Homo sapiens: one gene and its partners. The protein of the gene in region 2 purifies or fractionates together with the protein of the main gene of each other region. This does not show direct contact. Each region holds a gene or a part of one and is shown on either strand. Other genes may lie near its edges.

What was found.
Region 1: the proteins of SH3PXD2B (region 2) and PLPBP fractionate together in Homo sapiens (co-fractionation; one large-scale study listed by BioGRID). This does not show direct contact.
Region 3: the proteins of SH3PXD2B (region 2) and RC3H1 fractionate together in Homo sapiens (co-fractionation; one large-scale study listed by BioGRID). This does not show direct contact.
Region 4: the proteins of SH3PXD2B (region 2) and EIF2AK2 fractionate together in Homo sapiens (co-fractionation; one large-scale study listed by BioGRID). This does not show direct contact.

Annotation. Positions count from the first base shown.
Region 1 is NC_000008.11:37,765,645-37,769,144, reverse strand, and holds part of PLPBP (pyridoxal phosphate homeostasis protein), read right to left. Parts: intron 3,435-3,500; coding exon 3,399-3,434; intron 2,866-3,398; coding exon 2,790-2,865; intron 2,664-2,789; coding exon of another isoform or gene 2,611-2,663; exon of another isoform or gene 1,367-2,610; intron 1-1,366. UniProt on the Homo sapiens protein: Pyridoxal 5'-phosphate (PLP)-binding protein, which may be involved in intracellular homeostatic regulation of pyridoxal 5'-phosphate (PLP), the active form of vitamin B6.
Region 2 is NC_000005.10:172,336,263-172,339,525, reverse strand, and holds part of SH3PXD2B (SH3 and PX domain-containing protein 2B), read left to right. Parts: coding exon 1-1,157; 3' UTR 1,158-3,263. UniProt on the Homo sapiens protein: Adapter protein involved in invadopodia and podosome formation and extracellular matrix degradation. Binds matrix metalloproteinases (ADAMs), NADPH oxidases (NOXs) and phosphoinositides.
Region 3 is NC_000001.11:173,977,358-173,980,857, forward strand, and holds part of RC3H1 (roquin-1), read right to left. Parts: coding exon 3,452-3,500; intron 1,264-3,451; coding exon 1,131-1,263; intron 1-1,130. UniProt on the Homo sapiens protein: Post-transcriptional repressor of mRNAs containing a conserved stem loop motif, called constitutive decay element (CDE), which is often located in the 3'-UTR, as in HMGXB3, ICOS, IER3, NFKBID, NFKBIZ, PPP1R10, TNF, TNFRSF4 and in many more mRNAs.
Region 4 is NC_000002.12:37,101,846-37,104,980, forward strand, and holds part of EIF2AK2 (interferon-induced, double-stranded RNA-activated protein kinase), read right to left. Parts: 3' UTR 1-3,135.

The sequences.
Region 1 (3,500 bases), on a different chromosome or scaffold from region 2:
CAGGCTGGTCTTAAACTCTTGGGCTCAAGTGATCCACCTGCCTTGGCCTCCCAAAGTGCTAGATTTACAGGTGTGAGCCACTGTGCCTGGCCTAGTTGTTTTTTTTATGGTTTCCAGATTTTATGTCTTGCTTAGAAAAGCCCAAGAAAATAAAAATATTTTCCTGCATTTTATTCTAATACTTTTATAGCTTTTATTTTCAAGTTAGATTATTTAATCTAGCTGGAATTTACAACTCAATAATGAAAAGACAACTCAATTTAAAAAACATGCAGAGGACTGACTAGACATTTTTCCAAAGAAGACATAAAAATGGCCAATAAGCCCATGAAGAGATGCTCAACATCATTCGTTATTAATGAAAATCAAAACCGCCGGGCGTGGTGGCTCACGCCTGTAATCCCAGCACTTTGGGAGGCCAAGGCAGGCGGATCATGAGGTCTGGAGTTTGAGACCAGCCTAGCCAAGATGGTGAAACCGCATCTCTACTAAAAATACAAAAACATTAGCTGGGCGTGGTGGTGGGCGCCTGTAGTCCCAGCTACTCGGGAGGCTGAGGCAGAAGAATTGCTTGAACCTGGGAAGCGGAGGTTGCAGAAAGCTGAGATCGCACCACTGCACTCCAGCCCGGGCAACAGAGTGAGAATCCGTCTCAAAAAAAAAAAAAAAAAAAAAAAAAGAAAATCAAAACTGTAAGGAGATACCATTTCACATTTTTTGAGTCCAATATATCTCCTTTGTTGACTTATAAGCTATAACTCTTTATTGTGTTATTTTATTGGTTGCTTTGGGGTTTAACTTACAACAGTCCACCTTCAAGGTGTGTTACACTACTTCACACAGTTTAAGAACTTTACAATAGTGTACTTCTGTTTATCCCCTTCTGTTATTGTTGTCATGCATTTTGCTTTTACATAGTTATAAATCCCATAACACAGTTATTTTGTTTATATGACATATAATAAGATTAATAGAGACCCAGCCTTCAAGTAGGATTTATCCTAGGAGTGCAGGGTTGGTTTAACATTTGAAAATCAATAGGCCGGGCATGGTGGCTCATGCCTGCAATCCTAGCACTTTCGGAGGCTGAGGCGGGTGGATCACAAGGTCAGGAGTTCGAGACCAGCCTGGCCAATATGATGAAACCTTGTCTCTACTAAAAACGTAAAAAATTAGCCAGGTGTGGTGGCATGTGCCTGTAATCCTAGCTACTCGGAAGGCTGAGGCAGGAGAATCGCTTGAACTCGGGCGGTGGAGGTTGCAGTGAGCCGGGATCACGCCACTGCACTCCAGCTTGGGCGACAGAGCGAGACTCCATCTCAAAAAAAAAAAAAAAAAAAAAAAAGTAAATAAAAGATCAAGACAGTAAATTTTATGTTTGTTTTATTGCAGTTATAAAAAGTTAAACATAACACTTAACTTGTGATTCAGCCATTCTATTCCTATATATTTATTCCAAGAAAAAGGGAAATATATCCATACAAAGGCTCGTACACAAATATTCATAGCAACTTATTTGCAACAGTCAAAAATCAGAAGCAACCCAACATTCATCAACAGGTGAATGGATAAACAAATTGTAATATACTTATACAATGGAATACTACTGAATGATAAAAAGAATTGAACCTTTGATACAGGTATGAACATGATGAATCACTACACTGAATGAAAGAAGTCAGACAAAAAAGAGTACATACTTCATGATTCCCTTTGGATAAAACTCTAAAAAATGTAAACTCACGTACATTAACAGTGACAAAAGCAGGTAAGTGGTTCTTGAGGAAGAGAAGTGGGACAGGTAAGAGAGGGATTACCAAGGGACAGGAGGAAACTTTTAGGGGTGATAGATATGCTCACTGTTTGTTGTGATGGTTTCACAGGTGCAAACATACATCAAAACTCGTCGAATTCTATACTTTAAATATGTGCAATGTATTGTAAGTCACTTACCTCCCTAATAAAGCTGTTACAAAATATATACAGGTTATTTAAATTTTTATACCTTAAGGGAAATAAGTTCAGTTACTCAAGATCTCCATGTCTTTCTTAATTTTATTTTACTATGATTCTTGTTTTTTTTTTTTTTTTTTTTTTTGGGATGAAGTCTTGCTCTGTTACCTAGTCTGGAGTGCAGTGGCGTGATCTTGGATCACTGCAACCTCTGCCTCCCGGGTTCATGCGATTCTCCTGCGTCAGCCTCCTGTGTAGCTGGGACTTGACAGGCATGCACCACCACGCTCAGCTATTTTTTTGCATTTTTAATAGAGTTGGGGTTTCACCATGTTGGCCAGGCTGGTCTTGAACTCCTGACCTCAGGTGATCCGCCTGCCTCGGCCTCCCATGGTGCTGGGATTATAGGTGTCAGCCACCGCGCCTGGCCTACTTTACTATAATTCTTAATTTTACTTTACTATACTTACTTTACTGTATTGTATTTTATTTACTGTAGCCTTTTATTTAAAGGAAAAAGAACAGAAATGTCTCTTTTGCTAGTTAAAAAAATTTATGGGCTACAATTCTTTATAATTTTTCTGAAAGACCACCAAATAATAATAAACATGAGGTTGGGTAGGTTTCCAAGTATATATAACCCAGAAAATGGTGAATTCATTCTGTTCTTGGCATGATGTTTTCTCTTTTTATTAAGAACTCAGACTTTCCTAAAGAAATTCCAAAAACAAATGGTGAATTGGGGCTATTCTAAAAGTTGCTCTCTCTTCCACAAAGGGTAGTAGAAGCAATACAATGACAGAACAATTTTGTTTTCATATTTAATTTTATCTTACCCATCAATTTGTTGACATTTTGTTTCTGTAGGTGGCCAATGAAGTGCCATTTGATCTCAGGACACAAAGACAGAATCTGAGGGGAAAAAGGTAACCATGTGTAATTCAGATTTTATAGAGGCCTTGCTGGCTCAAACGCCTCGTGCACTCCCTGTCACCTTTCACATCCACTCTCTGTTCCTTAAATGTAATAAACTATCACAATCTTCACCCGGCCTCCTAATGAGGTAAAAGGATAGAGAAAAATCTAAGGCTTCTGTTCTGTTTTCCTTCCTTGTTCCCATCAATTCCCTCCATCTTTCAGATATTGCCCATCTAGGATGAACTGATTTAAGCTTTCAAATCTTGAAAAGATCCAAGATTACAGCAAGCTCCTGAAACCACCATTTCCAAACAGCCACCAATGAGAAAACGACAGTCTGAACAAAGAGAAAAATCTAGCTGAGAATTACTTGGGGCTCAAGGAGGAAGCTGACATTTCTATCCCTGGCCCAATCTAAAGTCAACCACCCTAAAACTGCTGTACAACTCAACCACCAGGATGGGTCTAATTTTCAACTAAAGAGCCAAGATTTAGATACAAATTAAAGAATTCAGCTATCTACTTACTTTGGGATTTGATGCTTTTTCTAGCAGTTCCTGAACCTAAAAGGTCAAAACAGAACAAGTCAGAAGCCTGGCAATCATGATGCTTCCAAAGGGCTTCAGGAA
Region 2 (3,263 bases):
AATCCATCATCAAGTCGGAGGGGGAGCTGCTGGAGCGGGAGCGGGAGCGGCAGAGGACGGAGCAGCTCCGGGGCCCCACTCCCAAGCCTCCGGGCGTGATTTTGCCGATGATGCCAGCCAAACACATCCCTCCAGCCCGGGACAGCAGGAGGCCAGAGCCCAAACCTGACAAAAGCAGACTGTTCCAGCTGAAAAATGACATGGGGCTGGAGTGTGGCCACAAGGTCTTGGCCAAGGAAGTGAAGAAGCCCAACCTCCGGCCCATCTCCAAATCCAAAACTGACCTGCCAGAGGAGAAGCCAGATGCCACTCCCCAGAATCCCTTCTTGAAGTCCAGACCTCAGGTTAGGCCAAAACCAGCTCCTTCCCCCAAAACGGAGCCACCTCAGGGCGAAGACCAAGTCGACATCTGCAACCTCAGGAGTAAGCTCAGGCCTGCCAAGTCCCAAGACAAGTCCTTGTTGGATGGGGAGGGCCCCCAGGCAGTAGGGGGCCAAGACGTGGCCTTCAGCCGAAGCTTCCTCCCAGGAGAGGGGCCTGGCCGCGCCCAGGACAGGACGGGCAAACAGGATGGTCTCAGCCCAAAAGAGATTTCCTGCAGAGCCCCTCCGAGGCCAGCCAAGACCACAGATCCTGTGTCTAAGAGCGTGCCTGTTCCTCTCCAAGAGGCTCCCCAGCAGAGACCTGTGGTCCCACCCCGCAGACCACCTCCCCCAAAGAAAACCTCTTCGTCATCCAGGCCGCTCCCAGAGGTCAGAGGTCCACAGTGTGAAGGCCACGAAAGCAGGGCAGCTCCCACCCCAGGCCGTGCTCTCCTCGTCCCTCCAAAAGCCAAACCTTTTCTCTCCAACTCTTTGGGGGGCCAGGATGACACGCGAGGCAAAGGCAGCCTGGGGCCATGGGGGACCGGCAAGATTGGAGAAAACAGGGAGAAAGCAGCTGCAGCCTCTGTCCCCAATGCCGACGGCCTGAAGGACTCTTTGTATGTGGCCGTGGCCGACTTTGAAGGAGACAAAGACACCAGCAGCTTCCAGGAAGGGACAGTGTTTGAAGTCCGGGAGAAGAACAGCAGTGGCTGGTGGTTCTGCCAGGTCCTGAGCGGAGCCCCTTCCTGGGAAGGGTGGATTCCTTCCAACTATCTCAGAAAGAAGCCGTAGCCGACTCCCTTTCTGCCTAGAGGGCCCGCTGGTCCTTGCTGGCTTTACCCACGTATTTAATACGCCTCTTAATTTATCATTCTCCACGCAGCTTCCAAGGCAGACAGACTCTGGGGTACTGTGACTTCTTGCCTCCCATGGGTGGAGAGTGAGTTTCGGACACCTCGGGCGCCCCTGGGCCTGATCCCTCCTATCACAGCATCACTGGAGGCTCAGAACCCACAGCCTTTGCTTTCTGTCCATGTCAGCATCCCTGCCTTAAGAGAACTCCTCCTGGCCAATGGCATTGCCACCCAGCAGTGGGACCAAGACTCTCCAAGACCTCCAGGACTGGATCCCATTGCCTGGAGAAACTCCAGCAAGGGTCTCTCATGGCTTGGACATGGCACAGTAAGGGGCAGCCAACCCAGTCCATGATGACTTTTGCTCCAACTTCTTCATGTTTCTAAAAGCCCAGTGGCTTTATTCACTCCTCCTAAATTGCCTGCTACCAGAAGGAACTTCATCCTGAAGAAATGCATTCCATTACCAGTTCCAGGGAAAGTGTCCCCTTCCCCAAAGCCTCAGGCCCGTGGGCCTCTGAGGTTCCACTGGATGCGGCTCCCCCAGGAGTGGGCCTGGAGATCCGCTCAGCCGCCCTGCCTCCCACCTTCTATCTTGGGACCGTGGTCAGCCCTGAAGGGTGGTTCCAGCCCCGCGTATGCTGCGCTTTGCTGCTGCAGGCTCCGGTCCCTCCAGGGCTTTTCAATGAGAGTTCCCACCCCAACTTGGAGCATTTCATTTTTGCCTACCTAAAGCAAGAATCTCAAAGTTTGTTTGAATAAGAGGCCCATTCACAAGTCGTGCCCTTGTGAGCACCCCTTTGCTGAGTGCCTCGTGGGTGCCAAACACTGTACTTGGCGCTTTGCATTCATGCTTTGACCCTCACAACCTCCCTTTATAGATGAGGAAATTCACGCTCCATGTGCCCAAGGACACACCAGCCAGGAGGAAGAGGGAAGAGGATTTGAGTCCAGGCCTGCCTGACTTCAGTGCCTGTGCCCTCCCCTCTGTAAAAGACAAACCAGGCAGGGAAGAGATAGAAGCTGGCTAAGTGGTGGCCAAGTGGCTTCATTGTGAGGGGGGTGAGGGGGCATTCGTGGCTGCTCCCACACCCACCATCCCTCCAGCCCACAGCAGCCTATACCAAAGGCTGCCCTGGACTCAACAGCTGCATCTCCATGACAGGAGAATGCCAGGGTCCTGGTGGTTGACACAGAGCCCTGTTCCCTCTTCTAAGCTGTTGCCCCCTGGGGAATAGAGCTTATGGAGCAACGGGAGCTGAGGTGGCCTCGAGGGCCAGCCTGGAGGGCTCTGAGCATAGCATGCAGCGGTCCCATAGGGAGGCAGGTAACCAAGGGCCAGGCAGAGCTGCTTCCTGTGCCTCTCCGGCATTTGTAATGTTTTTTTCTTTTTTCACGCACTGCCAAATCTGTTTTCTCCCTTGAAGAAACCCAGGGCAGATGTGGTCATCTGTCAAACTGAGGTCTGGAGAGGCATGACTAAATCACTGCAGAAGCAAAATCAGGACCCAGCATTTCTAGCTCCCAGCCCAGAGTAAGAGAGCAGAGCAGAACCCCTTCCCATTCTACCCGACCGAGGCAGCCCTGCCCTGCCCTGCCCCGCCCCTCCCCACCCTGCCCTGCCCCAGAGATCTCCAGTTCACAGTGTTCATCAGGCGAGATACTTTTGGACCCACAAAGCCAGTTTTTTGGGGGGATGCTCAGTGTCTACCTGCAGTGCCAAAGTTTTGCTTGAACAGCCCTCTTCTGCCGCGCCTCCCAGCTCCACCCCCTATCACGTGGGTGCTGGCTGCTTCTGCGTGAGGAGCTTCCTCTGATCACCTGTAGCATCTTTAGTGCCTTCGTCCAGTCGGCCTGCAAATCCCATTTCCCAGAGAGGCTTGGGCAGGGCCCACTTGCCACTTGGCCCTGTGCCCAGAGCGTTGGGGGCAGATGGCAGCCAGGGGAAGAAGGGAGGTGGGGAAGGGCCGCCACCGCTTGAGGGTCCCCTCCCTTGAGAGGAGGCCCCATGGCAGTTTTCCTGAGTTCTTGATCCACTTTGGTT
Region 3 (3,500 bases), on a different chromosome or scaffold from region 2:
ATTGTGAAAGAAGAACAGATAAATCCCATTGTATGAAACAGTATGTAGAACAAGTGAAAGGAAAAGATGAGACAAGACAAAACATTAAGGTTTTAAACTTACATACCTCAGAGAATGAGGTCATTATCAGAAAGAGGAAACATTAAAGGAAGAGCAAGTATCAAGAAATGATGAGCTTGCTTTGAAGCACTCAGAGGACACGATGGGGAATCTCAGCAAGCACTGGGAGATGTATCTGGAGTGATGCAGAGATAATAGTGATAGAGATATTTGGGAGTCTGTATTCTACACTAAGGTAATACCTGATGCTAAGAATGAATAACCACCATCAGAGCATGTAGAGAAAACAAAATTCCAAGAGCATAACCTGCCTACTCTTTAGTGGGCAGGAGGGGAAGGCATGGTACAAATAAGACAGAAGTAGCACTCAGGTCAGAAGAGAACTATGAGATCACAGAAAGATATCAAAAAAGTGCTCAACAACATTATCGAAATGCTGAAAACAAATGGGAGTGATTTAAAGACTAAGACAAAGCTTTTGGAATCAGAGACTGGGAATCTACTAGTGAATATTAAGAGAGCTTCAGATCAGTAGTAGGAATAAACACAGAGAAGCTAAAATAACTTAGATGTAAGTGCAAGTTGAAAAATGAAGGTTGGGTATATTTTCAGGTTACGGAGAAGGAGCAGAAAAAGCCTAAGTAAAGATATACAAGACAGGATACTTGAAGGAACAAGATATCATGGAGAGGGCAAAAACAGGATCAAGGAAATGCAACTAAGGATACATAATACAGAAAAAAATGAGAAAAACGAGATTTGGAAGAGGTAAGAATGGTAAAATACAACACAATTTTGTGACGGGAGAAAGAAGAAACATAAAGAAGCCCAGAGAAATCTATTTTCCTGATGAAATGAGCAACAGTATAAAAAGTATTAAATAAATATTAAAGTGAACTAACCTGAGATAAAGAGGGAAAAGATTTAAAATGGAAACTTAAAATACTGTAAAAAAGATCTGGAGTAACTACTTTGGGAAACCCTAGAGGAACAACAAAAGATAATTAAAGAATCATTGAGCAGCACGAAAGGCACATATAAGATAGTCCATTAATTTCCCGTGGGTTTACCTGGACTAGGGTCAATGTTTGCTAACAGCTCCAAATGGGGTCTTAGTCGGTTCAAGTTTGCTGGGTCTCCAGTTCGCTGGAGAGCAATTGTTAGTTCCTGAACACTCTGTGCAAAAGAGGCTGGAGTCTGCAACTTAAAAAAGATAAATGTTAACTTTCCCAAAGGTCAGATAATCCTTTAAATATAAAGATTATTTATATCACAATCATTTTTGCGATTTATTAAATTTAATTTTTATCTTCCCATATACCCTACACTTTGGCCAGAGTAGATTACTTGCTACCCAAATAAATTCTGTACTTCTCTGCATCCAGAGCTTGGCACATTGTGTACTGTATTGCCTCTGCTGTCACATTCTTCAAATGTGAGACCTCTCTCAATTCAGCCTACCATCAATTAGATATACTGATGAGTCTTCTTTGTGAATTGTTAATTCCTGTTTCTCTCCCCATTAATTTACTAGAATTAGTGCTTTCCTCATCGCTTTTAATAAATTCTCTTTTCTATTATCCAATATGGTGACCTTGGCAATATGTGGCTATTTAAATTTAAGTTAATTAAATGAAATAAAAATTTCAGTTCATCCGTTGCAAAAGTCACATTTCAAATGCTTAATGGCCGTGTGTGACTAGTGATCACCATATTGGACAGTGCATACACAGAACATTTTCATGATTACAGAAAGTTCTATTGCTCTATAAAATATCACACACACTGCAAAGTTTACCAGTTTGTTGTGCAAAGGTCTCTGGATATTAAATTTAAAGCACTGCGTGTGATATGAGAAAATTACTGTAGGATATACACCTAGTTACACAGTTCAGTTCAGACAAGATTAACCACCTTGTAGAATCTTTATAAAAGACAAGCCAAGCCAGGCCAGGCACAGTGGCTCACGCCTGTAATCCTAGCACTTTGGGAGGCTGTGGTGGGCAGATGACGATGTCAGGAGTTCGAAACCAGCCTGGCCAACATGGTGAAACCCCGTCTCTACTAAAGATACAAAAAATTTGGGCGTGGTACAGGGTGTGGTAGTGCGTGCCTGTAATCCCAGCTACTTGGGAGGCTGAGGCAGGAGAATCGCTTGAACCTGGGAGACAGAGATTGCAGTGAGCCGAGATAGTGCCATTGCACTCCAGCCTGGGTGACAGGGTGAGACTCTGTCTCAAACAAACAAACAAACAAAAAAAGCCAAGTTTCTCTTCAGAGGTAGAAAGGTACTCCTCTAATAGATCATTACTAAGCGTTAAGCGTTTCCGTAAATTATAAATGAGTTGCAAAACTTCCGATACAAGCTCCTGTCCAAACCTAAGAGTTGCAGGTAAAGTCTGGTTAAAGGTATCCAGGGAAGACTTATAGAGCAGAGCAAACAACCTACATTGTAACTGAAAATTATGTACCGCCTTTTTATCCCCCCTAAAGAGACAGGGTCTCACTCTGTTGCCGAGGTGCTAACATAGCTCACTGCACCCTCAAACTCCTGAGCTCAAGGGATTCTCCCACCATAGCCTCCCAGGTAGCTGAGACTATAGGCGCCTACCACCACACCTGGCTATTTTTTTTTTTTTTTGGTAGAGATGAGTGTCCCAATGTTTCCCAGGCTGTGACTGAACTCCTGGCCTCAAGCAATCCCCCCACCTTGGCCTCTCAAAGTGCTGAGATTACAGGCATCAGCCACTGTGCCCACCCTACACCAAGCATTTAAAAAACATATTTCCCAATTCTCACTGTATTACCCATTCAAGGAATTCTATCTTTAGAAATAGGAAAAAAAAAAAAAAAAAAAAGGTGGGGGGGAATAGTCTGGTAAAAGGTTAGTGTACTCTACACTGAGAATGGTCAAGTTCAAATCCACTTCTGTCATTTATTATCTATGTGATGCTGGAAAAACATATTAACTTCCCTTTGTCTTTGTCTAAAATGGATAATACAGGGCTGTTGAGAGGATTAAATGAATTATTTAAAACCACTAGATACATATTAAGATTTTAGTAAATGTTCATTATTTTTTTTTTAGGTTACTCTTACTATTTGACTCTATTTCTCTAAATTAAATGTAGAGTGGTCTCTAGAGTTGGCCTTCATCTCTGTGATTCTAGTAAAAATACAATAAAATATAAAATAAGTAAAATAAAAAATATAAACTAATCAAATCTTTAAATGAACAAAGTGGTATTATAACGTGATTGGTTATGACATGACACTGGCTATAAATACAATTTACAAAAGCTATACAGTATTCACTTTAATATACATTTGTTAAATGAATTACCAAAATGCCAAGATTAGTCTAAGAAGTAAGGAACAAAAAAGGTCCTACCTTGTCAATAATGGACTGCATATGAGATTTGTGAGACTGGTCTCCATAA
Region 4 (3,135 bases), on a different chromosome or scaffold from region 2:
ATTTTTTGAGTGTGACAATGATGCTGTGGTTTTGTTAAAAAGATTTATCTGCTAGAGATACATTTTAAAGTACTTACAAGTGCAATGATGTAACACCTGAGATTTACTTTAAAATATTCCAGTAGGGCCGGATATTGTAATCCCAGCAGTTTGGAAGACCAAGGCAGGAGAATCTCTCAAGGCCAGGAGTTTGAGACCAGCCTGGGAAACACAGCAAGACCATATTTCTACAAAAAATTTAAAAATTAGTTGGGTGTGTTGGTGTATGCATGTAGTCCCAGCTATTCAAGCGGCTGAGGCAGGAGGATCACTTGAGCCTAGGAGTTCGAGGTTACAAGGAGCTGTGATCGTACCACTGTACTCTGGCCTGGGTGACAGAGTGAGATCCTGTCTCTTAAAAAAAAAATTACAATTAAATACTTCACCAAAAGAAACAAACAAAAAGTAAGGGGTTAGATGTATTAAGAACGGTAAAGTATTGATATTTGTTGCAGCTGGGTGATGGGTAGAGTTTCATTATTCTATTTTTGTGTATGTTTGAACATAAAGAAATGTATGAATAATATTGAAATTATTCAATATTCCATAATGAAAAGTTAACATGCCAAGAATCTCAAATTATGGTGAACACTCAGTGGGGACTGCATATTGTGAGTTATGTCTCTAGTTAGTTAACAGATAGTAGAGACCTGGAAAAGCTTGTATGTAGCCTTTTAAACATTTCTTCTCAGATACATACATGCATATATATGTATTATATAAAATACATATTCATACACATATGTGCACACACACAGGATGGCTTCATGGACATGCAACCTGTGCAGTTGCACAAGACTGTGCTTAGAAGCACCCCACACCTAATTTTTGAACGAGGGCCGTACAGTTTCATTTTGCCCTTAGTCCCACAAATTATGTAGCTGGCCATACACACACATGCACACATACCACATACCCACATGTATATATGCATATATTGTGTACATATGTATATACATTGAATATATTTAACATAAGTGTTAAGTATGCATGTGAATTTTATGTATGTATTTATGTTAAACATGTACGTATTTAAATAACATGTGGTTTAGTGATAAAAATTCCCTAAAAGGTATGTTTCTAGGGAGGCAATTATATTAAAATGGCTCTCAAAATTTCTGTGTGTGTGTGTGTGTGTGTGCATTTTAATTAGCAAATAAGGTCCCAGGCTCTTGCCCCTGTCCTCCTCTGAGTAAGAGGATACTTTTTACTTTAATTTTGAGGCCAAGAAAATATATACTCACAAATCAAAAGAAGTTGCTAAGAAATGCTATATTCATTTAATAAGAGTAGGAATATATATATCTTTTTTTTTCTTTTTTTTTTTTGAGACTGAGTTTTGCTCTTGTCACCCAGGCTGGAGTGCAATGGCGTGATCTCAGCTCACTGCAACCTCCACCTCCTGGGTTCAAGCGATTCTCCTGCCACGGACTCCCGAGTAGCTGGGATTACAGGCGCCTACCACCACACCCAGCTAATTTTTGTATTTTTAGTAGAGATGGGGTTTCACCATGTTGGCCAGGCTGGTCTCGAACCCCTGACCTCAGGTGATCCACCCGTCTCGGCCTCCCAGAGTGCTGGGATTATAGGCGTGAGCCACCATGCCCAGCCAGAGTAGGAATATTAAAATGAGGTCAGTAAAGATAAGGCTACATTCTCACTAACTGGCCACATCATTTAGTGTTTCTTTTGAATATAGCCTCATTAATCAAAACCAGATATTGTTTTTTTAAAAAAAGATTTCTCTCTACGCAGAACATTTCCAAATCTACAGAAAAGTTCAAAGAATAATACAACAAACACCTGTGTACTGTCATCTAGATTTACCAATTGTACAATGGCTAATATTTTGCCACATGTGTGCCCTCTTTCTCTCTCCATGTTGATTTTTGCTGAACATTGAAAGTTGCAGACATCATGACACACTTGGCCTCTAAATGTTTGTGCATGCATTGCCTAAAAAAACATTTTTGGCTGGGTGCAGTGACTCATGCCTGTAATCTCAACACTTTGGGAGGCCAAGGCAAGTGAATCACCTGAGGTCAGGAGTTCAAAACCAGCTGGGTCAACATGGTGAAATTCCGTCTCTACTAAAAATAGAAAAAATTAACCTGGAGTGGTGGCAGATACCTGTAATCCCAGCTACTCAGGAAGCAGAGGCAGGAGAATCACTTGAACCTGGGAGGCAGAGGTTGCAGTGAGCCGAGATCGTGCCACTGCACTCCAGCCTGGGCGACACAGTGAGACTCTGTCTCAAAACAAACAAACAAACAAAAACAAAATAAAACAAAACAAAAAGACATTTTCTACATATACTATTATCACACCTGAGAAAACAGTTATTTGGCATTGTTATCTAATATGCAGTCTATATTCAAATGTTCTCAATTGTCCCGAAGATATCTTTATAGCTGTTTGCTGGGTTGTTGCTTTCTTTTATTATTATTATTATTTAGATATGATCTCACTCTGTCACCCAGGCTGGAATGCAGTAACATGATCATGGCTCACTGCGGCCTTGACCTCCTAGGCTCAAGTGATCCTCCCACCTCACCCCCCCAAGTAGCTGGGACCACAGATGCACACTACCATGCCCAGCTAATTTTCTGATTTTTTGTAGAGATGAGAACTCACTGTGTTGCCCAGGCTAGTCTCAAAATCCTATGCTCAAGCCATCCTCCCCTTTTGACCTCCCAAAAATGCTGGGATAACAGGCATTAGCTACTGCGTCCAGCTTTTGTCTTTTTAAATATCCAGAATACAATAAAGATTCAAACATTGCATTTGGTCATTGTATCTTACAAGTCTCTCCCCTTTTTTTTTTTTTCATGACACTGACTTTTTGAGAAGCCCAAGTCAATCATCTTATAGAATGACTACATTCAGGATTTGTCTAATAATTTCCTCATGATTAAATTCCAGTTTAACACTTTGTGCAAGAAAACTAAATAGGTAAAATTCTTAAGTCACATCAGGAGGGGCATAATGTTAGGGTGTTCCACCTTGGGTGATGCTAAATTGAATCACTTGGTTATTGTGGTGACCATTGTAAAGGTACATTTTCCCCTGTATAATTGATACCTCTTCTGTAGGATT